Homo sapiens: one gene and its partners. The protein of the gene in region 3 purifies or fractionates together with the protein of the main gene of each other region. This does not show direct contact. Each region holds a gene or a part of one and is shown on either strand. Other genes may lie near its edges. The genes, in order: G3BP1, NUDCD1, COPA and COPG2.

Region 1 (7,034 bases), on a different chromosome or scaffold from region 3:
CACCATGCCTGGCTAATTTTGTGTTTTTGGTGGAGACGGTTTCCCTGTGTTGGTCAGGCTGGTCTCGAACTTCCGACTTCAGGTGATCCGCCCACCTTGGCCTCCCAAAGTGTTGGGATTACAGGCGTGAGCCACCGTGCCCAGCCTTTTTTTGTATTTTTATATTTGGTTAATTTCTTTCTACCCCATAGAATAAAACTGACATAAAACATAACAAAAAGAAAAAAGCATAGGCCAGGCATGGTGGCTTATGCCTGTAATTCTAGCACTTTGAGAGGCTGAGGTGGGCGGATCACTTGAGGTCAGGAGTTCAAGACCAGCCTGGCCAATATGGCAAAGCCTTCTCTCTATACTAAAAATACAAAAAAAGGCGGAGGTTGCAGTGAGCTAAGATTGCGCCATGGCACTCCAGCCTGAGCAACAGCACAAGACTCTGTCTTAAAAAAAAAAATGTATTTATCTGGAAGACAAATGTCAAATCTTAATAGTGGTTATCCCTGGATTAGAGCATTTTGGTGTGTTGCTTTCCTGGTAGAATATTGTTTTAATGAAAATGGATCAAAGGAGGACATAGATGGGTGAAAACCATGAGGAATTGACTTTGACATTCTTAATTGCATCAGCAGAAATAGTTAAAAAGTACTTCTAAAACCACTTGCATGAACTAGGTGTTTAAGGGGAACCGCTCACGCTTATTCTCAGATACATTAATAAAAGGACACTTGAAGTCTATGAAGAAGATAGCTGTTCCAGCCTTACCGCACATTTTCTTCCTGAGTGAAAATAGGAACTTATGTATTGGTGGCCATCTTGACATGAAACTACAAGATCCTTCCCAACAGTATCATCCTACACTGAAACCTGGAACCAAATCCATTCCCATTCAGCAAATGTTGATCAAGTGGCATGTAGGGGATACAGAGATGATTGCATACAAAGATGAAAAAGAAAACGTTTCTGCCAGGGCCAGGCGCGGTGACTCACACCTACAATTCCAGCACTTTGGGAGGCCAAGGCAGGTAGAATTGCTTGAGTTTGAGTTCGAGACCAGCCTGGGCAACATAGTTGACCTTATCTCTACTTAAATAAAAATAATCAGCCAGGCATGGTGGCATGTGACTGTAGTTCCAGCTACTTTGGGAAGCTGAGGTGCCATTGCACTCCAGCCTGGTCAGCAAGAGCAAAAAAAAAAAAAAAAAAAATGTGCACATCAAAGATCATAGCCCCGGCACATCGAAGCTGCAATGAGCTATGATTGCATCACTGCACTCCAGCCTGGGTGACAGAATGAGACCCCGTTGCAAAAAAAAAAAAAAAAGTTTGCCAGTATCAGACGTGAAAAATAAACTTAAGATACTTGAAGATGACAAGTAAATCATCTTCCCATTTTACAGATTTTATGGAAAGAACTCTTCTTATGTCCATGGGGGATTGGATTCAAATGGAAAGCCAGCAGATGCAGTCTACGGACAGAAAGTAAGCATTTCAAGCCTTATTTAGGCTGTTAAGCAGGTAGAAAATAACTCATAAAATTGAAGTGGATCATACTTAATAGATTTGCTGATAAAGATCCAGTTTCTCAACTTTTTAGTAAAAGTTGATGTGTTTTATTACTATTTGATTAATATATTTGTTGAAATACTTATGTGATGTCAGATTTGTTAATTTTGTATGATATATTCTAAAGCTTTTGTGTGTTGGAAGATAATTGGCTTTAGCATGGGGATCATCTTTTCTAAACTTTGAAAAGTGTGTTAATTCAGGACAGTTATTTAAAAAACTCAAGCGCGGTCACTGGGAATAGAGTATACAAAGAAACATCAAAATTCAGTCTGCATATCCTGTAATTTAAATATACACATTCTCTTTGTGTTGTGTTGGAAGGTTTTTTTTAGTTGGAGGTTATTTAAATTTTAAGGCATTCTCAGTTGATTATTATTATTATTATTATTTTTTTAAGGAAATCCACAGGAAAGTGATGTCACAAAACTTCACCAACTGCCACACCAAGATTCGCCATGTTGATGCTCATGCCACGCTAAATGATGGTGTGGTAGTCCAGGTGATGGGGCTTCTCTCTAACAACAACCAGGCTTTGAGGAGATTCATGCAAACGTTTGTCCTTGCTCCTGAGGTATGTGTAGGAATGATTATTTTGTAGTGATCCAATACATGAAAAAAGAAACAATGAACTGTTGTGCATATCTTTAAAAACACTTGAAATTTCAGACTTACAGAAAACTTGGAATAATAGTACACTAACTCCTATATACTCCTTACCTAGAGCAGCTGTCACCACTTGCCCACATGTGTATAATTCTTTCTCTAAAATAGTTTAGTGGGCATTTCCTAAGAATAATTCTCTTCCATTCTGTAGTACAGTTATCAAATTCAGGAAATGTTGATGCAATATAATCTATAATCCATTTTTAAAATTTGGAAATTATCTCAATAATGTCTTAACAGTAATTTTTTTTCCTTGTCCAACATGGAATCTATAATTACACATTGCATTTAGCTATCATGTCTCTAGTCTCTTCTAATCTGCACTTGTTCCTTAATCTTTTGTTTTTTTTTATTGCATTGACATTTTTGAAGAGCACACTTTTTTTGTAGGATGCTTTATGGGTGTCATTCAGTGCTTCACATTAGGCATATTATGTCATTTAGTTGTGATATGAATTTTGATTAGTTAGGTTTTGCCACTGTAAAGTTAAATATCTTTTCTCTCTCTCTCTTTTTTTTTGAGACGGAGTCTCACTGTATCGTCCAGGCTGGAGTGCAGTGGCTCCATCTCTGCCCACTGCAACCTCCGCCTCCTGGTTTCAGGCTGTCCTCCTGACTCAGCCTCCCGAGTAGCTGGGACTATAGGCGTGTGCTACCGTACTCGGCTGATTTTAGTATTTTTAGTAGTGATGGGGTTTCACCATATTCGTCAGGCTGGTCTCTAACTCCTGACCTCAAGTGATCTGCCTGCCTCAGCCTCCGAAAGTGGGATTACAGGTGTGAGCCACCATGCCCAGCCTTATTTTTTCTCTTTTTGATTTGTAAATGAAGGATGGGAGATTCTCTATCTTTTTATCTTTCTTGAACACTTATGGCAAAATATTTTCCAGGTTCATCTTGCACTGTTCCTGGCCCAGTCCCTATTCTTGAATCAGCTGTTCCTTCAAGGAGGCCTGGTTCTTTTTAGTTATACTTATGAAAGGACGACAAGTTTATGTTGAATGATTGCATTTGTGTTTTCTTCCGGATTGGTCTAGACTGAACAAGGTTAGGAATCCTGTCTGCTTAAGCATGTATATAGAAATGGCATAGTAAGAAATTGTTGATTAAATCATTGTTTTCTCTAGCATTAATCTTAAGTTTTCTTTTTAGGATAGCAAACCTGAAACGCCTAAAATCTTTTAACCTTTGAATATGAGATAACTTTTTGTCTGTGCAAAATTACATGAAGCCAATTATAGTCATAATTTTTAGAGGAAGGCTTAGATTAAAATGTAAAGATGTGGTAGACTTCTAAATATGCAAAGAATCACATGGAGTATGATTGTGAATTACAGGTTTAATTACAGTTTTTTTCTTTTAAAGGAAGTATCTAACTTCTTAGTATAATACACTATTATATAAACTGTCTCATTTAATACAGAGAGTATTGAGGTATATGTTGATATCTTTCTTTTTTGTTTTTTGAGAGAAGAGTCTCCCTGTGTTACCCAGGCTGGAGTGCAGTGGTAGGATCATGACTTACTGCAGCCTTGACTGCCTGGGCTGAAATGATAATCCCACCTGAGCCTCCTAAGTAGCTGGGACCACAAGTGCAGGCCACCATTCCTGGCTGATTTTTGTTTCTGCTTTTGTGGAGACTCACTCTACAAAAAACTCACTGTTGCCCAGGCTAGTCTCAAACTCCTGGGCTTAAGCAGTTCTCCTACCTCAGCTCTCCAAAGTGTTGGGATTTCAGGAGTGAGCCACTGTGCCTAGCTGGTACCTTTCTTTTTACAGAGGAGTAACAGCCTTAGAAACTGAATAACTCATAATATATAATTGGATCTGCACTCAGGTGTGTCTTATACCTACTGCGAGCAATCTTTTTCAGGCTGCACTACCCTTGAGTGTTTATATCAATATTTTTGGAGACAGACTTGGGGAATTTTAAATATCTGCTGAAGTTAGGAATATGATTGCCTTTTTTTTTGAGACAAGGTCTTACTCTGTCGCCCAGGCTGGAGTGCAGAGGTGCAGTCTGGGCTTACTGCACCCTCCACCTCCCGGGTTCAAGCAATCCTCCCGCCTCAGCCTCCCTAGCAGCTGGGACTACAGGTGTGGGCCATTATGCCTGTCTCATTTTTGTATTTTTAGTAGAGATGGGGTTTCACCATATTGGCCAGGCTGGTCTTGAACTCCTGACCTTAGGTGATCTGCCTGCCTCGGCCTCCCAAAGTGCTGGGATTGCAGGCATGAGCCACTGTGCCCATCCGGGATATGATTGCCTTATAATGTTTTGAGGTGTGGGCTGTGGCATTTACATGCTTAGGGCTTTGTCAGTTTTTGGATATTTATCTTGTGGTGAGGTAAAGTGTTCTGAGCAAACAAAATGTATGTGAGTGTAGTCTTTTTACCGGCTATTGTAGAGTGGGCATTTTCAGTCTTGGCACTGTTGACATTTTGGATTAACTAATTCTTTGTTGTGGGAGCCTGTCCTGTGCATTGTAGGAATTTAGCAGCATCCCTAACCTTATAAGTTGTCAGTAGCATTCCATGTAGTGAATACTGAAATGTCAGCAGGGCATGCTGGCTCATACCCATAATTCAGAACTTTGGGATGCTGAGGCGGGAGGACCACTTGAGCCCAGGAATTAAAGACCAATCCGGGCAATATAACAAGATCCCGTCTCTACTCAAAAAAAAAAAAAAAAAAAAGAAAAAAGAGAAATTAGCCTTGCATGGTGGCGCGCCCCTGTAGTTCTAGCTACTTAGGAGGCTGAGGCAGGAGGATTGCTTGAGCCTGGAATGTCAAGGCTGCAGTGAGCTGTGGTGGCTCACTGCATTCCCACCTGGCTGACAGCAAGACCCTGTCTCAGAACCCCACAACAACAAAAACTGAAATGTCTCCAGATATTGCCAGATGTCTCATGGAGGCAGACTTGTCCCAGTCACCAATGGTGTAGAGTGATTTGACTTTCTAAAAGTCTGTTGAATAAATTAAAACTTTCTGTTGGCATTGCAGGGGTCTGTTGCAAATAAATTCTATGTTCACAATGATATCTTCAGATACCAAGATGAGGTCTTTGGTGGGTTTGTCACTGAGCCTCAGGAGGGTAAGTAGTGAAATACTTTAAATTACTTGTCTAAATTTTTTTTAATGGCATCCGATTGCCCTTAAGAGACTATGGGTTTCTTTACTGTTTTCATTACACTCTGTTCTTCATTAATAACTAATTATGGTATATGAAGAGTCTGAGGTTTTACCCTACTTGAAGCTGCTAACAGGTTAGCTTATATCATGGATGTTAGTAGAAGACATAAGACTCTTAGGTCAGAAGGAGACAGGCTAACTCACAGCGACAGTAGTAGTATTTTTGCCACATTTACCAATAGGATGTCATGGAGAAGGCTAGGTGATACTTCTACTGCAGTGGGTTGTGTTAAAGGCATGGGACACTGAGTTTAGGGAACCCAGATCTATTACAACAGGCAGTAAACATGACTACTCTTTGTGCTGGAGGGAGATACTCTTTCAAAGCTGTTTGCTATATAAATGTTCTTGAAAGACAGTCTAGAAGAAAGGGTAGGCATGGAAGATGTGTAGACACAGAGACTTATGGAAAATTTTCTCCAAAATAGTAGAATTGAGTGTTGTTTATATGGCTGAGAGTATATTTATTTTGTAATACAGTTTTACAGATAAGCAATCATTTGCCTAGTAAAGTGGTAGAGCCTGCATTAGATAACTGCCTAATATAATTTGGCTAATGTCACGTAGCCAGTAAGGTGACAGAGCCTGCATTAGGCTCCATGCTCTTAAAAACCAAGACACTACAGTAGCCTTAAAGTCTATCCTTAAGGCTGGGCGCGGTGGCTCACGCCTGTAATTCCAGCACTTTGGGAGGCCCAGGCGGGCAGATCACGAGGTCAGGAGATCGAGGCCATCCTGGCTAACATGGTGAAACCCCATCTCTACTAAAAATACAAAAAATTAGCCAGGCGTGGTGGCAGGCGCCTTAGTCCTAGCTATTCGGGAGACTGAGGCAGGAGAATGGCGTGAACCCAGGAGGTGGGGCTTTCAATGAGCCGAGATCGCGCCACTGCACTCTCTAGCCTGGGCGAGAGAGCGAGACTCCGTCTCAAAAAACAAAAAACAAAAAAAAGTCTGTTCTTCAAAGCCTTAGTTCTGTCCTTAAAGTCAGTGCCATGATTTTACCAAATTGTCCTACTTTGTTTATTTATATATGTTTTTCTTCACTGTTGTTTTGTGAACATTGCGAAAGTTAATGTATATGTGAATTCAGTAAGTACAAATTACTTTAAATATCTTTTTCTCACTTAGAGTCTGAAGAAGAAGTAGAGGAACCTGAAGAAAGACAGCAAACACCTGAGGTGGTACCTGATGATTCTGGAACTTTCTATGATCAGGCAGTTGTCAGGTAAGAAGATTTTGTTCACATGTCCGGGGCTGCATAAGAACTTGCATTGTCTAGTCTTTCCCTTTGTTGGAGGGCATTTACATATTCTGAGAATTACCTCAAAATAATAATTTCTCAGAAGAATGGTTTTGTTTCTGGTAATTTTGACTAAACAAAAATATGTAACTTGTTTGTTAATAGTAAATTGTACTATGAAGGCAATCTACTATTGCTTAGTTTAAATAGTATCAGTTTCTTTTTGGTTTAGTTTTTTCTTGGTGTTAAGTGAAAACTTGCATATTGTTTATCAAGAGTTGAATGTATTGAGGTATTAAATGCTTTGAGGGAATATGAAGTGGACAGAGACCTATTTAATTAGAGATCGGGCATAAATTGATATAAATACCA
Region 2 (7,383 bases), on a different chromosome or scaffold from region 3:
AGGGCCAAAATCCAACTTTTGATTTTCTACCAATTCATCCTGTTTGTTCTTCTTCTGAGAATGGCAATTCCATTCTTCTGGTTCCTCAGACTAGGAATCTCTGTAGTATCCTTCCACTCAGCTGCCTTGTTAACACTACACATCCAATTTATGAGCAAATCCTATTGGGTTCAATTTAAAACATATACCTAGAATTCACCTTTCTCACTATCTCCGCCATTACTACTCTAGTTCAAGCCATCATCTCTTCTCTAGAATATTACCATAGCATTCTAGGTTGTCTCCCTGCTTCTTCCCTTGTACACTTAGTTCTTCTCCTGCTGCTCAAAAACCTCCAGTGCCTTCCCAATTTACTCAGAATAAAACTCCAAGACTTTATTACAGCCTACATGATCCTTCATGATCTGCCTTCTCCCCAGCTATGCCACTGACTTAATCTCCACTCTCCCTCACCCAATTTACTCAGTCTCCCTAGCATCCCTGTGCTCCTCAAAAATGAAAGGCAAGCTCCTATCTCAGGAACTTAAAGAGTCCCTGCTCACCCTCATATCCTTCTGATTTTTTTTTTTTTGAGACGGAGTTTCACTCTTATCACCCAGGCTGGAGTGAAGTGGCGCGATCTCAGCTCACCGCAACCTCCGCCTCCCGAGTTCAAGCGATTCACCTGCCTCAGCCTCCTGAGTAGCTGGGACTACAGCCCATCACCATGCATGGCTAATTTTTGTATTTTCAGTAGAGATGGGGTTTCACCATGTTAGCCAGGATAGTCTCAATCTCCTGACCTTGTGATCTGCCAGCCTCAGCCTCCCAAAGTGCTGGGATTACAGGCGTGAGCCACTATGCACGGCCTCCTTCTGATTTCTTCTTTGTTTTTTCTATCTAAAATATTACACCTCTTTATTTTCTGCTTTATTGTTCCTCTAGTGCTCATCACCATCTGACATTATTACACAGTTTTATCTGTCTCCTCCCATTAGAATGCAAGCTCTGTGAAAACAAAGTCTCCATTTTTGTCTACTACTGTTACCTCCAACACCTTAACAGGGCATGGCATATGATAGAAACTCAGTAACTTGAAGCTGCATGAATCAAAAACAAACAACAAAAAAAAAAAACAACATACAATCCGTACTCCTTACCAGCAGTACTATCCTCTAAAGCTACCCAAGGCAGTTATCGATGCCTCCTTCCTCATTTTGAGGGTTGCTGTTTCTACATTTTATTAAAATTCTAAGGTCTCCTTCCAATTTTTGGAGTTTTCCATTTTCAACCCTATATAATCTTCTACCTCATTTTTCTGCCATCTATCTTGTCCCCTTCAAGTCCAAGCTCCACACCAACAGAGTAAGATTCCTAAAGTGTAAATGTGATCTAGTCATTTCCTTTCTTAAAACTTTAAATGACTCCCATCATCCAAAAATAAAGTCAGCAACAGATGCACCTCTTTTTCTTATTGTGTGAGATCTTACATGATCACCTGAATGCCCGGGTTGAGTTGAAAGATTCCCCCTCTTCCTTATACATATTTGCCTCTTCCTTATACATATTTGTCTTACTCACTTTATAACCCTGCCTCTGGGAGCCTTTCTTGATTCCTCAGCCCCTTCTTTGTACTTCTAAACCTGTTGATTCTGCAAATATTTACGTGGCCAATTATGAACCAAACAAAGCATTAGATGCTGGGTATACAATGTTGTTTTTGGTGTTAAAGAACTTAGATTATACTGGAGGATACAAACTAGCCAAGTAGATTGTTAGAACACAATGTTGATTAAATGCTATGATGGAACAAGGTATTTGGGACTTAAAAACATTCCTTGAAGAGACAATATATAAATTAGACCTGATAGTTGAGCTAGAATTAGCTAAAAAGGAAGAGAAGGAAGAATGTTTTAGAGAGTGGAAACAGCACTTGCTGCTCCAAGGTTGAGAGCTTGGTAAATGAAGCTGGTTCCACAACATTGTCTCCCTGTTAAAACCCAGGTAACATTATGTCTCCAGTTGTAATTCAGGTATGTACTTTTTCTTCTCCATCAAATTACTCTTTAAGAGCCATATCTTGCTCATCTTTCTACATCACCACTTCCCTCCAAGTCCTGCAATACTTAACAAACCTAAATTATTTTTTCCAGATGTTCGGAATAGAAACTTTTATAATCTCAATTGTAATTCTTTCCAGTGACATGTTTCATTTCTTGTTTAGATTCTTACAAGCTAACTATTAAAGGCGGTGAAATGTAATTTATTAACACAATCTATTACTTACCGTTCTCTTTCTCCAGTTTCTATCAACTTTTGGTTAATCGCTGCTCTCATCTGCGCATCTTTGTTCATCTTGCTAACCTGGACATCAACATGTACTTTCAGATATAGAACATTTACAAAGCATTTTCTGCTAAATCCTCTAGGCAGGCATCCTAACATGTTTACCATTCTATTAACTGAAGGGGTGATACATTTCAAGTGTGTTAATAATATCATTACTCTTTATTAAACACTTATGTGCTTGGCACTGGGCTAATGCAGTGTGGGTTTGCTTTTTTTTAAACATCACATTTAATTCCCAGAACGTATTGTTACATATTTATATTAATAAAATAATCTGTATTTTACTGATGAGGAAACTGAGGCACAGAGATAGAAAGTGGAAAGGCAAAATTTGAACTCAAGTACTTTGACCCTAGGAGCTCCAAAACTGAACATAACTGCCGATCACTTCTGCAGAGACTGCATCCAAAAATTGGGAGAAGTCATACATACTAAACATCAAAAAAAGATTAAATACTATTAGTAAAAAAATAAAATTACCAGGCCGGGCACAGTGGGTCACACCTGTAATCCCAGCACTTTGGGAGGCCCAGGCAGGTGGATCACGAGGTCAGGAGTTCAAGACCAGCCTGACCAAGATGGTGAAACCCCGTCTCTACTAAAAATAGAAAAATAAGCTGGGCTTGGTGGCAGGTGTCTGTAATCCCAGCTACTCAGGAGGCTGAGGCAGGAGAATCGCTTGAACCCAGGAGACAGAGGTTGCAGTGAGCCGACATTGCGCTGCTGCACTCCAGCCTGGGTGACAGGGCAAGACTCTGTCTCAAAAAAAAAAAAAAAAATTAATTAATCAAAAAAAATAAAATTACTAGATAAGGCTCTAAGTGTTTTGCTTTACTCTTCACTAGGATGAACCCACAATTACAACTGCTAAACCTAAGTGTGTGGATGTGTGTGTTTACACACACACTGCTGGTGGGATAAGAAGAAAACAAATCTCAAACTAATTCCTAACTTACAAAGTCCTCAATTGTCAGTAAAAACAGACAACCCAAACCAAAATGATGTTGAAAGAAGAGGAAAGTTAGGTTTTGAAAGCGTTAAAGCCACTTAAAAGTTTAAATTAAATAAAACTTGGCGTAAACTAACGTTTTCCCACCTAATCTGTCACTAACTTGAGATTACTTTTGTTGTCTTCCATCTGGCCTATTGAAAATTCAGACTGGCAATGAGTTACCAGAGTTGATTTTTTTTTTCTTTTTTGAGAGGAACAGGGAAAAGGAGAAGTTGAGTGAGAACTAGGAAATGCTTGCTTTTGTAATTGGAGGCTAACATTTTCAAAATAACTACAAGGTCTAGTCAGTACCACTCCTGGAATATTGAACTTGATCTCGTCTTGGCTCCTAAAATACGGATAGTGACCTTGGACAAGTCACTTAATTCTTAAAGGCCTCAGTTTTCTCACTGGTAAAACAAGGGCGCTAGGGTATCCCTCCCAGTTCAGACATTCTTAGGGAAAATAGAACAGGGCGGAGACAGCGGGAGAGGCGGGAGAGGAGGAGCCAGAAAACAAAGCGAGGACTGGTTTCAGGCCAACTCCGGTAGCACGCCCTGTCGGAGAGCCCTACAGGCCCGCGAGCGCGGGTCGGGGACGCTAACGAAAGACAGTACATCGAAAGGAGCCTGGGCTGGGCCCGGGTCCCGGCCCTGAGGACCACGGGCATAGCTCACCACCATCACCGCGGGCGAGGGCCGTCCCTTCCCAGCGACGAAATGACCCTTGCGCTGAGGACCGTTACCTACCACACTCTTCGGCTGCCCGGACTTAGACCCTCAGTAGCTCGGGCACCTAAGCACACAGAAAGCTAGAACACGCATTTCCGGGGCGGGGTCTCGCCACCCTGCCTATAATGTGAGAATTTAACCAGCGCGGGCCGCCTCCTGGTTGCTAGGGCCTCTGGGTAACAGAGTTCAGACCTTGCCGTCGCGCGCGCGTTAAGTACCAGGAGAACTACATAGCCCAGCATGCAACAGTCTCAACTTTTTCACGGACACTACATTTCCCAGAAGGCAGTTCGCACCGCAGTGTTTTCTGGGATGGGAACCACGCCGCTTCCCAGTCTCTGTGCGAGGCGTGAAGCGCGGACCTTTCAACAAGGGCTTTATTAATTCTCACGCTGCGGCCCTGGAAAGCGATGGAGGTGGCGGCTAATTGCTCCCTACGGGTGAAGAGACCTCTGTTGGATCCCCGCTTCGAGGGTTACAAGCTCTCTCTTGAGCCGCTGCCTTGTTACCAGCTGGAGCTTGACGCAGGTGGGAAGCGGCGGCGCCCTTCGTACTCCGTTCCTTTCCCCTTTCGGCTGCCTCCGGCCTGACCCTTCCCGCAATTTCTTTCTTTCTGACTGGCAAGCGAAGCCACCGTGGCGGCTTGCGTGGACTCACGGAGGCCGCTGCTTCTGGGGAATGATGCCCATCCCAGAACCCGGTGGGAGCCGCCTTCGCGCGCTCTTCGGTAACGGGACCCTGGGCCCCCTCCGTCAGCAGCCCAGCCTCTGAGGTCTGAGGTCTGAGGGCTGGCGTGCGGGTAGTGCCTGGGGCTCTGGCTGCTGTGTGTCCACAGCCTGGCTTCTGTTTCGGGGGACGCTGAGAACATTCCTTCCTCCTGGAGCATCGCTTGTGAACGTGTGCGTTGAGAAACCACACCTCCTTGGAGGACCCCCAGTTCCTGTTTCCTCTGACCGAGAGCCGTTTCTTAGAAGAGAAACTACATTCCAGTCATAGCATTTTTAATTACTCAGTTCCTGGCACATTAAGAACTCTGGTAGAGAACATCTCTAGAAGATAGTGAGGAAAAGTGGATTTACTCCCACACTGCTACTCCTTGCTTTATCTGTAGCTGGTAGAATATCCTTACTCTTGTTTTTACAACTTAACGGCATTTTCGTTATGATAGAGCCCAGAGATCTGCATTTTAAAATTCACACCCCTGCTGATTCTGATGCATGTTTTCAGAGATCACACTTTGAGAAATAGTGATCTACAGTTAATTATAATAACAGACATTAAAGTATAAAATAAGTTTATGCTAATTGATTTATTAAATTCAGAAATATTTACCGAGTACCTGTTTTGTGTTACGTCCTGATAATATCAAAATGAACAAGACACCTTCCGTAACAAAAGAGGACTATTAGCTAGTTAGGAAGAAAATTGTAAACAGATAATTGTAAAACAATATGGGAAGGCAGTGATAGGGATATGTACAAAATACAATGGTAGTACTTGAATATCTTTCCTAAACTAGTCTGGGGATCTGGGAAGGCGTCTTGGAGGAGTTAATATCTAAGTTGAGCTTTGAAGGGTAGGTTAAGAGTTGACTAGGATGAGAGAGGATAAGCTTGATTTTTCTTTTTATTTTTTTCCTTTTCCTCTTTGCCACCGTGTTTCTTCCAGTCACCCCATGTCAGTAGATGGTATCACCATGTTTAGTTAGTGCATTAGAAAGTGAAGCCAAAATTCAGTGTCTCAAAACAAGAAGCAGTTATTATTGCTCACAAGTCTACGGGTCAGCTGAGTGGTTCTTCTAGTCCTAGTTGGGCTCATTGATGCATCCTTGTTCAGTAATGGATCTGCTGGGAAGCTCTGCTCATTTGGCTGGACTTCCTCATATGTTTGGAGGGTGGGGGTAGGGTCTCAGACTATAAGCTTGTTTAAGATTCTTTCACATGGTCTCCTCTTGACTTTTCTCCGTGTGGTCTCTTATCCTTTAGCCGACTAGACTAGCCCAGGTTGGTACCAAGAGACACTTGTGCCAGAGTCATTTGGGGTTTATTTCTTTTAGCCACTGTCTGCTTGGTAGCAAGTCCGGTCAGCTCCACATTTTGATATCTCTAGGCCTCCACCCTAATCCAAATCAGAGTTATCTCTTACCTGAACTCTAGTAGCCTCCTGACTAGCCTTCCTGCCTTCACTTTTGGGCTTCGTCATTGCATTCTCCATAAGACGTACTTATCGGCCTTTTAAATTCTATCTTGATTTGTTGTCTGTTTCCTCCACTAGACTATGAGTTCCTTGAAAACAGTGATGTTTTTCTTTTGTTCACTACCCTATATCTAGTGCTTGGCACATAGGATGTATTCAATAAAATGAGTATATGAAGAAGAGAAGAAATTGTTGAGGTCATTCCATTCATGGGAAAGCATGAGGAAAGGGAAATAATTAGTAGGTTGTATGCTGGACATCCTTGCACTCTTATATTGCTGGAGCAAAACGTCTGGGAAAGTGAGAGGAAATAAATCAGTGAGGGCCTTGTTTGCCTTTTGGATTTCTTGGATTTCCGGTCATTCAGTGTTTCCCTGACATTTTTGTATTGAGCCATTACAATATAAAATAAAACTCAGCTGCTGTAGTTCTGCCAACTTTTCTGTTTACTAGGTGGAGATGTTTCTTAAAAACTATCATTTACTCATCTATCTTTTCATAAACAAAAGGATATTTTAACACCAAAAAAGCAGGAAGCAAAATCTCACAATAAACAATCCATTGAATACTTTAACTTTAGAAAAAATTCACAAAGTTGTCCTTGTTCCGTACTCATTTCATCAGCGTTAATCTTAGATTCTGTGTTTGGGATGTACAGCTGCAGGATATCAGGTGCCATTTGAAGATTTTTTTTTTTTTTTTTTTTTTTGAGTCTGAGTCTTGCTCTATTGCGGAGGCTGGACTGTAGTAGTGTGATCTCGTCTCATTGCAACCTCTGCCTTCCGGGTTCAGGCGATTCTCCTGCCTCAGCCTCCCGAGTAGTTGGGATTACAGGCGCCCGCCACCATGCCCAGCTAATTTTTGTTTGTTTCTTTTTGTTTTTGTTTTGTTTTTTGAGACGGAGTCTCTGTCGTTGAGGCTGGAGTGCAGTGGCGCGATCTCAGCTCACTGCAACTTCCGCCTCCCGGGTTCAAGCAGTTCTCTGCCCCAGCCTCTGGAGTAGCTGGGATTACAAGTGCCCGCCACCAAGCCCAGCTAATTTTTGTATTAGAGACGGAGTTTTACTATCTTGGCCAAGCTGGTCTTGAACTCCTGACCTCGCGATCCACCTGCCTCGGCCTCCCAAAGTGCTGGGAT
Region 3 (7,034 bases):
GATAATGCGATGTAATTATTTCCATCTCTGTATCCAAAGGGGTCCTATGTGTTCACTGGATTTTCTTTTTTTTTTTTTCTTTTTTTTGAGGCGGAGTCTCGCTCTTGTTGCCCAGGCTGGAGTGCAATGGCATGATCTCGGCTCACTGCAACCTCCGCCTCCTGGGTCCAAGCGATTCTCCTGCCTCAGCTTCCCGAGTAGGTGGGACTACAGGCGTGCACCATGATTCCCAGCTAATTTTTTTTGTATTTTTAGTAGAGACAGGGTTTCACCATGTTGGCCAGGATGGTCTCGAGCTCTTGACCTCGGGATCCGCCTGCCTTGGCCTCCCAAAGTGCTGGGATTACAGATGTGAGCCACCGCACCCAGCCGATTTTCAATGGAATTAGACTAAAAGCTAGGAGTAATTGAAAGTATAGGAAGTTCTTCAGGAAATCTATATAGATGCAGATGCTTTGCAGAGTCCTTGGTTTTGAGTCACATTGTCCTTCAACCTGTTAACACGACCCTGGGGATTCTTTAGATTGCTCTGGAAGCAGCCAAAGCACTGGATGACAAGAACTGCTGGGAAAAGCTGGGAGAAGTGGCCCTGCTGCAGGGGAACCACCAGATTGTGGAAATGTGCTATCAGCGTACCAAAAACTTTGACAAACTTTCCTTCCTGTATCTTATCACTGGCAACTTAGAAAAACTTCGCAAGATGATGAAGATTGGTGAGGCCCTCAAACTAAGGATGGGAAGAGGGGTTCTTGGGGGAAGGAGGAAGGTGAATTAAGGAGAAAGAGAACTTAAGAGAAAAGACCTAACTTGGTGTCTCTTACTTGGTGCAGCTGAGATCAGAAAGGACATGAGTGGCCACTATCAGAATGCCCTATACCTGGGTGATGTGTCAGAGCGTGTGCGGATCCTGAAGAACTGTGGACAGAGTAAGTATCCGAGACTTGCCAGCTTTTTCAGGGTCTGAGGAAGTATTTTTCTGTTTTTGTTGAGTTAATCTGTGTATAGTGGTGAGGGATTTCTCTTTATTGTGCATTTTTTTAGGAGAGACAACATGCTCCTACTGTGCTTAGAAGATTTTCTTCAAAGCCAAAGGGAGGTGCAGCCAGAATATTCAGTCCAGCCAAACACCCTTAGGAGAATAGTTATTCATGGGGGAGATAGGAGGTTTTAAAAGGTCTTGAGTGGACGCCCTAGTAAATGCACTTGGTTGGATGCCATTAGAATTTTATTCTTTATTTTCAGTTTGGAGGTTTCACTCATTTATTCATGTATATAGTCAAGGGATATTTTTTGAGAACCCACTATATACCAAGCATTATATTAGCATTTAAGATACATTAGGAAACAAGCAAGGTGAAAGATGAGGTTTGGACCAAGGCGCTATTAGTGGAGGGGTGAGCAGTGGTCAGATTCAGGATATATTTTAAGGTAGAAACAACATGATTTATTGCGGTAACTAGATTTGAGATGTAACAGAGAGGAGTCAGGGATATCCAAGGTTCTCAGCACGGATGGATACGTCTCAAAGATAAGCAGCTATATTAGTTCTCTATTTCTGTGTAACAAATTATCCCCAAATTTAGTAGTTTAAAACCACAAACATTTATTATTTCACAATTTGTGGCATGGCTTAGCTAGGTGCCTCCGGCTTAGGATCTCTCATGAGGCTACAGTCAAAGTGTTGGCCAGAACTGCAGATATCTGAAGACTCACCGGGGAGAGAATCTACTTCTGCACTCACTCAATGGCCATTGGCAGCCCCCATGTCCTTGCTCCCTGTTGTCTAAGAAACATCACTTTCTTTTCGTGTTGACCTCTCCATAGGAGTTTGTAACGTGGTAGCTAGTTTCCCTTACAGCAAGTGAGCAAAAGAGGGCACCCCAAGATAGAAGCCACAATCTTTGTAACCAGATCTAGGAAGTAACATCCCATCACATCTGCCATGTTCCATCCATTAGAAGCTATTTAATAAATCCAGCCCACACTTAAGAGGTGGGTATTTTGCAACAACTTGAATACCAGGAGTCAGGGATTACTGGGGGGCCATTTCAGAGGTTGCTTACCACAGCAGCATGCATTTGGAAATGTACCTATACCACAAAGTCTGTTTTCTCTACAGAGTCCCTGGCCTATCTCACAGCTGCTACCCATGGCTTAGATGAAGAAGCTGAGAGCCTAAAGGAGACATTTGACCCAGAGAAGGAGACAGTGAGTCTTTATTTACATAATTGTCTCTTATTACAGGATTAACTCTAGGATCTTAGAACAATTTAAAATTATGAATGTCACTCTCCCACCTGGTTACCAGGAGAGGCAGAGAAACAAATGAGATCAAAGGAGGCTCCATAACTTTCCTTACGTGACTTCCAAGTGCTATTTGTTTTTAGCCTCTTTTCTTCTACTATTCAGATCCCAGACATTGACCCTAATGCCAAGCTGCTCCAGCCACCTGCACCTATCATGCCATTGGATACCAATTGGCCTTTATTGACTGTATCCAAAGGATTTTTTGAAGGCACCATTGCCAGCAAAGGTAAGTACCTATTTCTCCCATAGCACTTTTGTTGTTTGTTTTGTGAAGAACTGTCCTAGAGAATACCATTAGCATTTAGTTTAACTTGTCCTTTTTTTCTGCATGGAGCCTAATGGAATATTGAAATGCCAGTCATTTATGGTGCAGTCTTAAAAACTTAAGATAGCATTTTCAGGTCATTAAAGAAAATTTGGAAAATAGGGAGAAAAAAAGGGATCCCTCTACTACCATCAATAACTTCGGTTAATATTTTGGTGTATTTTCTTAGGTTTTACTATATATGTAGTCATGTTCTTTGTTCAGTATTTTATCATTCATGACATACAATCTTAAAGGTACTAATTCAACTACCTGTAATTCCGGTATGTGGGTATAGGCAGATGTGTGCTATCACCCTCCACCACTTCCACCCTTAACCTCCTCCTGTTTTCTGGGTCTCCTAGTTCATTTCCCGTGAGTAAGAGCCTAAACAGACTCTTGAGCATTTTGTGCCAAACCCCACTCTTTTCTCCACCTCCTCTATCTACCCTATGCCTGATGCCCTGTACACATTGTAGTGGTGGTAGCTTAGCAAAGCGCTCAGGAAGAAATTCAAGAGTTGGTAGCCAAAGGCTGGTAAGTACAAATTATTTAAGAGCCAGTTTTTGGTAGCAGGAAGGCCAGTTCCTTCCATCTGTCTTCTATTCCCTCCCTCTGTGAAAGCTACTGCAAGTTAGCATAACATATATACCACAAAAATAAATAATACACAAAAATAAATAGTAAGTAGGCAGAAGCTTGGCACCTGTTTTTGAAAGGATTTAACCTGCCTACAGAAAAGGCCGTATCTCAGACTTGCTGGACTATAACCAGTTCCGTTCTGTTCCTTCCCTCTGTAGGGAAGGGAGGAGCACTGGCTGCTGACATTGACATTGACACTGTTGGTACAGAGGGCTGGGGAGAGGATGCAGAGCTGCAGTTGGATGAAGGTAAAAGTGCTGTTTTAAGACTGTTCTGGGGTGATGGACACCTTGGATTGGGACTGGGTTGTGGGTAGCTCTGCAGACTTCCAGGCCATGAAACGAACTAGGATTGATTTTACTTCCTTTGGCTAAGATTATGCCACTGCCCAAATCTGTTTTGAGCTTGAATTTTCCTTACAGATGGGTTTGTGGAGGCTACAGAAGGTTTGGGGGATGATGCTCTTGGCAAGGGACAGGAAGAAGGAGGTGGCTGGGATGTAGAAGAAGATCTGGAGCTCCCTCCTGAGCTGGTATGTGGAATTTGTACCCTTAGAAGGTTCTCTCCGTATCTCCCTGTGGAAGCCAGAGGCCTTATTGTCCCCTACCACTATCCTCAGGTCTCCTATCCTATCCCCTACCACTATCCTAAGGTCAGCCCTTCTGGGAAGGGGACTAGACCCTCCTAGTCTGATGCTTATCTCCCATTTGAAAGAAGGAAGATGGCTGGGCACGGTGACTCATGCCTGTAATCCCAGCACTTTGGGAGGCTAAGGCAGGACAATTGCTTGAGCCCAGGAGTTCAAGACCAGCCTGGGCACCATAGCAAGACCCTGTCTCTATTTTAAAAAGTAAAAGAAGCAGGAAGAACGAGAGAGTCAAAGTTAGTGGCCTTGTCACTTCCATCTATCCTGATATGCTCCAAGAGGAGAGGATGTAGGACTTATCTCTAATCTGATGCTTAACTCCCATTTGAAAGAAAGAAGAATGAGGTAATCAGCGTTCTGCCAGCAGCAGCTTATGAGAAGGTAGCAAGCTGTTTCATCTGAATTGGAGTTTTTGATATGTCATTTTGTCACTGGTGAGGTGGCTCCTATTTTGGCAGCCTTCTCCCACAACTATCACCCCTCTTCCTCAGTGGGGGCAGGGAACAATGTAAATGGTTGTGTTCTAGATTCAACAGAACAAAGTGCTTGAATGGCTTAAAAAATTACTCAATTTGGCTGGGCACAGTGGCTCACGCCTGTAATGCTAGCACTTTGGGAGGCTGAGCCAGGCAGATCACTTGAACTCAGGAGTTGGAGACCAGCCTGGGCAACATGGCAAAACCCCATCTCTACAAAAAAATACAAAAATTAGCCAGGTGTGGTGACTCATGCCTGCAGTCCCAGCTACTCGGGAAGCTGAGGTTGGAGGATTGCTTGAGCATGGGAGGCAGAGGTTGCAGTGTGCCGAGATCATGCCTCTGTACTCCAGTCTAGGTGACAGAGTGTGACCCTGTCTCAAAAAAAAAAAAAAAATTACTCAATACTCAATTTTTGTTTTTCCCCTAGGATATATCCCCTGGGGCAGCTGGTGGGGCTGAAGATGGTTTCTTTGTGCCCCCAACCAAGGGAACAAGTCCAACTCAGGTAAGCGGGAAGAAACCTAGCACGGCAGGGATGAGTGGCTAATACTTGATTGGTATATAACAGGTGTTGGCTACTTTTCTACTATAGTTACAGAGGAGAATAGAGAAGGGACAAAGTTTCACTTGGCTTGGGTTTTTTTGTTTCTTGTTAGATCTGGTGTAATAACTCTCAGCTTCCAGTTGATCACATCCTGGCAGGCTCTTTCGAAACAGCCATGCGGGTAAGTAACCTTGGCTTTTCCTCTTGAGTGTGCCTAGCCCAGGGTCCCCGGGAGATGGTTGACTCATTTTAATCAAGGGAAATTATCCTACCCATAAGGGGAAAGGTGTATATTTTTCATGAAAACTCTTTATCTTTGTTAAGTACACTTGCCTTCCTGTTATCTGCCTTCCACTTGGCCTAGTAATCTCTTAGGGCATATCCTTCAGTCATCTTCCACCCATTTATAGCTTGCTTTCTGGCTCATATCAGTGAGATAAGTACCCCTTTCCAAGCAGAGGTCTGTTTTGAACACTAAGCCAGTATTGTTATAATAACAACAATAATGATAACACTGCAATAACTGCTAACGTTTATTTAATGTTCACTGTGTGCCAGGCACTATCCTAAATACTTTAATAGGTATCATTAAATGAGGTAGGTCTTACAATTAAGTGTATTTTACTGATGAGGAAACGTGAACAGAGAAATTAATTACCTTGCCCAAGGAAAAGTAGCTTTTTATGCAGCAGGGCCAAAATCCTTGTTTCTTTCCTTCTGTTCCAGCTCCTTCATGACCAAGTAGGGGTAATCCAGTTTGGCCCCTACAAGCAACTGTTCCTACAGACATACGCCCGAGGCCGCACAACCTATCAGGCTCTGCCCTGCCTACCCTCCATGTATGGCTATCCTAATCGCAACTGGTAAGGCCCTTTTCTCTTTGCTTTCATCTGTTCCAAGTTGTGGTCGATATTTCAGATGGTAGCCTCAGTGACATAGTCAGAATTCTCTCAGAGCTAGGGTTTCCCAGTAGAAAAAGATCTTTGGTTTGTTACTCTATGGGGTTGGTTTACACCTGCTGTCATCCTCTTCCCCAGCTACTTTAACAGGAGACAGGAGGGTAGCTATGAGGATGTTTGCCAGAAAAGGAAATTGGGTCCTAGTTGCCTACTGACTATCCTGTCTTCTTCCTACTTTTCCCTTTCCAGGAAGGATGCAGGGCTGAAGAATGGTGTACCAGCTGTGGGCCTGAAGCTTAATGACCTCATCCAACGGTTGCAGCTGTGCTACCAGCTCACCACAGTTGGCAAATTTGAGGAGGCTGTGGAAAAATTCCGTTCCATCCTTCTCAGTGTGCCACTTCTTGTTGTGGACAATAAACAAGAGATTGCAGAGGTAGGAGGGTCTAGCCGCTGTCCCAGTTCTGGGCACTTCCACATTCTTGTCTCTGTATCCTGACCTTCTGCCCCCTCTACAGGCCCAGCAGCTCATCACCATTTGCCGTGAGTACATTGTGGGTTTGTCCGTGGAGACAGAAAGGAAGAAGCTGCCCAAAGAGACTCTAGAACAGCAGAAGCGCATCTGTGAGGTAAGATCTATAGGACCCTGAGCACAACAGAGACGTCCTTCCCTTCACCCTTCACTAGGTTTGAATTCTTTAATTTCAAACCCAGATCTGAGTGGGGATGAAGAGAAATTTAGGCCCTTCATTTCTATGAGGGGAGGATACATTTCTTCATCCTACTTCCTCATCTCACCAGTCCTCCATACCTAGGAGGTAGAAGACCTCTCAGCTTTATAGCCCATCATCCTATTTTGTGTTGTGTTTTTTATGCATGTGTAGCAGCTTAGAAATGACTTCTACCAGGTGTAGCATCAACCTGGCATGTGTTCCTTTTTCTGTCCACCAGATGGCAGCCTATTTCACCCACTCAAACCTGCAGCCTGTGCACATGATCCTGGTGCTGCGTACAGCCCTCAATCTGTTCTTCAAGCTCAAGAACTTCAAGACAGCTGCCACCTTTGCTCGGCGCCTACTAGAACTCGGGCCCAAGCCTGAGGTGGCCCAACAGGTAGATGGAACTCCTTCAGTGACCATAGGGAAGCCAGATCAGCTCTTACATGGAGGGAGCAGACCAAGGTCCTTGCCTCTGAAACAAAGCAATAAATAAC
Region 4 (7,034 bases), on a different chromosome or scaffold from region 3:
AAGTCTTTCCAACAAATTATGGTGGAATACAGTAGATATAGGTATGGAAAAAATACTGAACTTACCAAACAAACAGTAATTCAAGTTGGATCATTGCCTAAAATGTAAAATCTAAAACCATAAAGCATTTAGCCTAAAGCATGAGAAAACAAGTAGATAAAGGTTTCTTAGGGAACAGTAATAACTATGAAAGAAAAAAATTGATAAATTAGACTTCATAAAAATTTAAAACTTCTGCTTCTCAAATGATACCGTTAAGAAAATAAATAGGCAGCCAACAGACTGGGAGAAAATATGATCATGTTTAAACTCTTACCTTGAACTCATCTGAGATTTCAGACACAAAAGAAGATATCTGCTTCATGAGCCGGTCCACACTGCTCTCACTTCCTGTTTTGAGGAGTGTAGTAATGGCTAAGGTAGCAATGCTTCTGTTTGAGTCTGTGATTAAGTTTTCTAAGTCCAGATTGCAGGCAGTAACAGCAGAGGGGTGCTTCATTGCCACCTTGTGGAAGGGCAAGAAAAAAAATTAAGCAAATTGCTTTTGATAAAGGCCAGAACTTAAATTTTAATTGAGGTAAGTGGCAATCCAAAGAGGACAGGATAAGTTAAAAGTAATTGCTTCAAAAACAAAAAGAATGGCTCCAGTTAACAAGGTATATCTTTTAATAAATGATCAACGGCCAGAGTATAGCATCGTACTCTCTTTTGTTAGGTTCCTCTAACCTTTCTAACATTACCATTTTTAAAAAATTATAATTGGCCTGTATTTCCTTATAGTACGTGTGTTCATATACGTCTATTCTATTAGATGTTAGGAGTACTGACAACAGGATCTAGCATAGTAGTCAGTGCTCGACAAAGACTGTTAATATCTTATCAGTTAAAAAATACTGCTGCATTTCAAGACGCAAACTCCAGCCAAACTGCATTATCTATGGTTACTACATGGTCTGCCATTCTCCTGCATCCTTGTTTTTGTTGATGTTGTCCCACCTCTTTGTCTATCCCAATATTGGTATGGAATCCCTTACCCACAATTTGGAAAATCTGAAAACACTCTGGAAAGCAGAGCACTGGGATGAAAATCCATTTAACAGCAAAACATGACCCAAACTAATGCGAAACTCTTTAATTCTTAATTTATACCACTTGACAAGGATAGTCATATGTTTTGTGCAAAAATATTAATGTTTTTTAATGGTGGGATGCTGCCCCAGGCCCACTGGGGTTAGTAAATAAGAGATAACACCATATAACCTTTCTAAAATTTAACTAAAAGCAAATTCTGAGACACATCTGGCCCCAAGATTAGAGATGAGGGATTGTAGACCTGTATCAACTCTTTAAAAACAATTTAGGCCAGGCTTGGTGGCTCATACCTGCAATCCCAGCACTCTGGGAGGCCGAGGTGGGCAGATCACCTGAGGTCACGAGTTTGAGAGCAGCCTGGCCAACATGGCGAAACCCTGTCTCTACTAAAAATACAAAAATTAGCCGGACGTGGTGGCAGGTGCCTGTGATCCCTGCTATTTGGGAGGCTGAGGCATGAGAATCGCTTGAACCTGGGAGGCGGAGGTTGCAGTGTGCCAAGATCGTGCCACTGCACTCTAGCCTGGGAGACAAAGTGAGACTCTGTCTCCAAAAAAAATAAATAAATAAAAAACCATTTAAATTGTTGTTCTATAAAGGTTTCTTCCATGGCTGCTCTAAACTTCTCTTTTCTTCGACTGTTTACACAATTAATTTATAATTATGTATTGCCTATGACAAGTCTTCTATTACATTTAACTTTCATTTACATTTTCTATGCTTATTTAATTTATTCTGTGTTTCTGTATTATATCCTCTAAATCTATACTGTCTAATAACATAGCCAACAGCAACATGTGACTACCAGGCATTTGAAAGGTGGCTAATCCAAACTGAGTATGCTGTAAATGTAAATATACTGGATGTCAAAAACTTGAGATATGTAAAAATATCTATTACATGTTGAGATGACATATTATATGTATTATGATAAAATATACTATTAAAATTAATTTTACCTTAAAAATTTTAATGTGGTTATTATGAAATTTAATATTACATATGTGATTCACAGTGGGTTTCTACTGGACAGGGCTGCTGTAGACCAGCACTGTGCAAGAGAACTTTCTTCAATGACAGAAATGTTCAAGATCTGCACTGTCCAACAGCCACTGACCACATGTGGCTGTGAGTACAAGAAGTGTGACTCATGTGACTGAGGGTTGAATTTTTTATTTTAATTAATTTAAATTGAAATAGCCACTGGTGGCTAATGGCCACCATATTGGACAGTGTGGCTCTTGAATATAAAATGCTTAGAAGTCAGAAATGAGTTATAATCTTCAGCTAAATAATAATAAAAATGAGCATACTCAAGGCCACAAATACAAGTGAAGTGTTGTAGAGGTGAAGCCCATAAATCACATATACTAACCTTGGAGAGAAAACCAAATGCTTCACATTTAATGTTTCTCAATTAAATACTGATATAAGTCAATAATTAGCAAAGAAACACCTACCTTGTTCAAGGTCCTCACAGCTGCATATCTCAAGGCTGGCTTAGGAGAACTACAGAAAAGTTGAAGAACTAAAAAAAAATAATAATAATAATATGTAACATTAAGTAATATTACATATACATACCGTGAATACTCCTGGCTTAAGAGAACTATAGAAAAGTTGAAGAAGTAAAATACAGATATAGATACAGTGACTATTACCTATATATGCTGTGAATATTCCTTATCTCATCATATACCATATAGCTGAAAATATAGTACATAATGAATCACATTCAAAATATGCATACATTTTATCACAGCATCAAAAATTTACATGAAAAATGTAACATCAAAATAGAAAAAGCACTTTTGGGGCGCCTGTAGTCCCAGCTACTCGGGAGGCTGAGGCAGAAGCATGGCGTGAACCCAGGAGGCAGAGCTTGCAGTGAGCCGAGCTATCGTGCCACTGCACTCCTGCCTCAGTGACAGAGTGAGACTCCGTCTCAAAAAAAAAAAAAAAAAAGAAAAAAAAAAAAGAAAAAGCACTTTTGGTCAGTTATAAAAACTTAAATAAGAAACAAAGTTTGCTCTTTTTAAAAAAAAATTAGAATACCCATTAATACCTGAACTAAATGGTAGAAATATTGACAGTTCTGAAAACAAATGGGCTTTTTAAACACCAAGGAAAACTGTAAAATGTTTTCAAAAGTTTCATACGAGGAAACAGAAACTTTAAAAAAAAGCAATAAAGAACTATTATTAATAAACTATGTACATATAAATAAAATTCTTTCAAAAGTTTTATATGGAGAAATAGAAACATTAAAAAAAGTAATAAAGTAAGGAACAACTAAAATAAACTATCTACATATAAGCTATCAGAATGCAAAGGCTATATATACACAGAGCTAGTGTTCAGAAAACATTCTTAATACCTATTCTGTAGACCTATGAAACTTAAAGCAAAAACTTAGGAACATAAAAGCCAGCCATCAAATATAAAACAAACCTGAAACAGCAGGTGCCAACTCTCTTGCAGTGCAGTTAGGAAGATGGATGATAGCTGAAGCAGCTTCATAAATAACCATTTCATGTTTATTTCGCAAGCAGCTCTCAATGAAATCAAACAGTGGACTTTCATGGCTGCCAATAAATATTTATAGGCCATTATTTAGATATCAAATAGAGAGGCAATATGCATAGGGATTAAAAGCACAGGCAGATTGAGAGGCACTTCTGGAATGGTGGATGAGGGATTTCTAAAAATTCATTTCATCACAAAGCAATTAGAACACTGGCAAAATTGTCAAAATCAACTTTTGCAGAACTCTAAAAAATTAATCAAAGATTTGCAACAATCCTGAACATCTATTTAAGAAAAGTAGCTGAATCTTAGTAAAAATGGTGAAGTTTCTGGTGTTTTAACCTACTCATTCTCAATTTCCATGCACCTCTTCCCAGTTCCATAGCAGTCTTGGAAACCAGCAGCCTCAGAACCACAGTAACTGTGAATGCCAGCAGCCTAGCTACAAAAGCAGCTCTGGGCCAAAATCTCATCCCCAGAGAACTGTCACTATGTGACCTGTCTGGTGCTCCTAGAAAAGCCCTATTCACAGGCTAATCTTTACTTCACCTGACTCAAGAGCTCATTCAGCATGAAAAGCCCTATGCCCAGGGAGTTTGTCCAAAAAAATCAGTAGTATTTGGTTAATCTTGCAGCTGCCAGAAGCAGCAATTTTAGCAGGGGCAAACAAGAGGCTGGCCAAAAAACTTAAAAGGAAAATTTGAGAAATGAGATGTCCTTAGGGGGCTTTGAAAATTTCTAAAATATTTCTGGGGATACAGAAGGTCATGTGCATGTGCAGGGCTAAGCAAACAGCCACTAAAGACCTGACAGAGCTCCGCTCTCTAACCTTTGCTTGACTCTGAGGCTCTGCACAAAGCAGGAAGTGAAGGCTAAGGCAGAGCTGTGAACTCCCGGGGCATGGAAAGCACGCCCCAACATACACAGCACCCGTTGGAAAATGATGGGAGACATACTGGTTTAAAGCATTTAAGAAAATCTGTCAAATTATTATTTGTGACTCAGCTAATCAAACAAAGACTTCAGTGTCTATACAAGATACAGAATAAAGACTACAGAAATAGTCCAGGAAGGTCACAAACAACAACAAAAACAACAAACCCCAGGGATAGGGAAAGGGAAGGTCTGATTACCAGTGTTGTCACATTATAATATTTAAAATATAATGTTTCTGACAAAATAATTATGAGACACACAAAGAAATACTTAACTATGACCCATCTATGGGGGAAAAAAAGTAGTCAATAGAATTTATTCCTGAGGAAGCCCAGATGTTGAACTTACTGGCAAAAACTTTAAGTCAGCTAATATAAATATGTTCAAAGAACTAAAGGAAACTAAAATATTTAATTTAAAGGGAAGTACAACAAGATGTCTTATGAGACTACCAATAAAGTGACAGAAATGATTTTTTTTTTTAAGAAACCAAATAGAAATTCTAGATTTGCAAAGTGCAATGACTGGAATGAAAAATTCACCAGAAAAAGTTCAATAGCAGACTTGCACAGGCAGATGAAAGAATAAGAAAACTTGTAGATCTACTGAGATAAACCAGCTGATGAAAATAAAAAAAGAAGGAAGAAAAATGAACAGTGCTTTGGAGACCTGTGTAACATGACCAAGGGTACCAACATTTTGGATGATAGGAGTTTTCATAGGAAAAGAGAGACACAAAGGGGAAAAAGAACATAAGAAGAAACCATGGCTGAAAACCTCATAAGTTTGATTTAGAAAAAACATTAATTTATGTACCCAAGAGGCTCAAAAAGTCTCAAGCAGAATAAATACAAAAATATTCAAATATATACACATCAGAGTGAAACTGTTGAAAGCATAAAAATAGTCATTCTGACTGGTGTGAAATTGTATCTCATTGTGGTTTCGATTTGCATTTCTCTAATGATTAGTGATGTTGACCATTTTTTCATATGCTTGGTACCATCTTGTACCAGTCAGAATAGCTATTATTAAAAAGTCAAAAAGTAACAGATGCTGGTGAGGTTGCAGAGAAAAGGGAATGCTTACACACTGCTGTTGGGAATGCAAATTAGTTCAGCCACTGTGGAAAGCAGTTTGGAGATTTCTCAAAGACCTCAGAACTACCATTCAATCCAGCAATCCCATTACTAAATACGAACCCGAAGGAATATGAATTGTTCTTCTTAGGTTTTGATGAGAAGGCGAGGATTAAAGAAAGACTGAGAGAGAGTTGGCGGCTCTACAGCAATGCAGGTTTTATGTCCAGCATAAGACCTGCAGAGGCGGGGCACCAGCTTAATGCCAGGGCCCACCTCTGCTTACAGGCTGGGGCAATTTTAGGCCTGGGAGGGAGGGGTCTGAGGGTTATGGCTTGCTGCCCGGGAGGATGTTGATAAGATGTTCCCATGATGAGGTGGTTTGGCCCTTGTTCTGGCAGGATGTGACAGTGATGTTCCTTGGACTTTTTCCCAGCAGAATGTGATAAGAAAGTCAGGCAGTCGGGCAGGATGTTTCTCACGGCCCAGTCCCCCAAGGAATGTTTCACTTTGATCAAGGTCTATGAAATGACAAGGGGCTTACAAAATGGTACAGTTTGGACTAACAGTTCTACCATAAAGACACAGGCCCTCCTATGTTCACTGCACCACTACACACAATAGCAAAGACATGGAATCAACCTAGATACCCAACAACAGTGGACTGGATGAAGAAAACGTAGTACATATACACCATGGAATACTATGCAGCCATAAAAATGAATGAGATTATGTCCATTGCAGCAACATCGATAGAGCTGGAGGCCATTATCCTAAGCAAATTAACACAGGGACAGAAAACCAAATACTGCATGTTTTCACTTATAAGGGAAGCTAAACATTGAGTGCACATGGTCACAAAGAAGGGAACAATAGGCACTGGAGCCTACTTGAGGGTGTAGGGTGGGAGAGGATGAGGATAAAAAAACTACCAACTGGGTGGTACCAAGAAGTTTGAGATTATGCTAAATGACCAAACCTAAGAATAACTGGTGTTCCCAAGGAAGAAGATAAATCTAAAAGTTTGGAAAACTTATTTGAAGGAATAATCAAGGAAAACTTCCCCGGCCTTGCAAGAGACCTAGACATCCAAATACAAGAAGCTCAAAGAACAGCCAGAAAATTCATCACAAAAAGATCATCACCTATGCATTTAGTCATCAGATTATCTAAAGTCAAGATGAAGGAAAGAATCTTAAGAGCTGTGAGGCACAAGCATCAGGTAAGCTATAAAGGAAAACCTACCAGATTAACAGCAGATTTCTCAGCAGAAACCCTACAAACTAGAAGGGACTGGGGTCCTATCGATAGCCTCCTTAAAAAAAATAATTATCAGCCAAGAATTTTGTATCCAGTGAAACTAAGCTTCATAAATGAAGGAAAGATAAAGTTCTTTTCAGA

Evidence for each region.
Region 1: the proteins of COPA (region 3) and G3BP1 purify together in Homo sapiens (affinity purification with mass spectrometry; 2 studies listed by BioGRID and IntAct, with this or other methods). This does not show direct contact.
Region 2: the proteins of COPA (region 3) and NUDCD1 purify together in Homo sapiens (co-immunoprecipitation; 3 studies listed by BioGRID and IntAct, with this or other methods). This does not show direct contact.
Region 4: the proteins of COPA (region 3) and COPG2 fractionate together in Homo sapiens (co-fractionation; 4 studies listed by BioGRID and IntAct, with this or other methods). This does not show direct contact.

What each region holds. Positions count from the first base shown.
Region 1 is NC_000005.10:151,788,929-151,795,962, forward strand, and holds part of G3BP1 (ras GTPase-activating protein-binding protein 1), read left to right. Parts: intron 1-1,394; coding exon 1,395-1,476; intron 1,477-1,960; coding exon 1,961-2,134; intron 2,135-5,230; coding exon 5,231-5,321; intron 5,322-6,550; coding exon 6,551-6,647; intron 6,648-7,034. UniProt on the Homo sapiens protein: Protein involved in various processes, such as stress granule formation and innate immunity. Plays an essential role in stress granule formation.
Region 2 is NC_000008.11:109,331,088-109,338,470, reverse strand, and holds the start of NUDCD1 (nudC domain-containing protein 1), read left to right. Parts: upstream 1-4,383; 5' UTR 4,384-4,460; coding exon 4,461-4,578; intron 4,579-7,383. Other genes in the region: transcription and mRNA export factor ENY2, read right to left, coding at 2,267-2,343, 3,997-4,002.
Region 3 is NC_000001.11:160,291,235-160,298,268, reverse strand, and holds part of COPA (coatomer subunit alpha), read left to right. Parts: intron 1-523; coding exon 524-713; intron 714-830; coding exon 831-926; intron 927-2,119; coding exon 2,120-2,208; intron 2,209-2,409; coding exon 2,410-2,533; intron 2,534-3,411; coding exon 3,412-3,501; intron 3,502-3,675; coding exon 3,676-3,785; intron 3,786-4,805; coding exon 4,806-4,883; intron 4,884-5,034; coding exon 5,035-5,103; intron 5,104-5,442; exon of another isoform or gene 5,443-5,648; coding exon 5,649-5,785; exon of another isoform or gene 5,786-6,070; coding exon 6,071-6,257; exon of another isoform or gene 6,258-6,339; coding exon 6,340-6,450; exon of another isoform or gene 6,451-6,772; coding exon 6,773-6,934; exon of another isoform or gene 6,935-7,012; intron 7,013-7,034. UniProt on the Homo sapiens protein: The coatomer is a cytosolic protein complex that binds to dilysine motifs and reversibly associates with Golgi non-clathrin-coated vesicles, which further mediate biosynthetic protein transport from the ER, via the Golgi up to the trans Golgi network.
Region 4 is NC_000007.14:130,560,717-130,567,750, forward strand, and holds part of COPG2 (coatomer subunit gamma-2), read right to left. Parts: intron 3,678-7,034; coding exon 3,544-3,677; intron 2,621-3,543; coding exon 2,553-2,620; intron 506-2,552; coding exon 317-505; intron 1-316. UniProt on the Homo sapiens protein: The coatomer is a cytosolic protein complex that binds to dilysine motifs and reversibly associates with Golgi non-clathrin-coated vesicles, which further mediate biosynthetic protein transport from the ER, via the Golgi up to the trans Golgi network.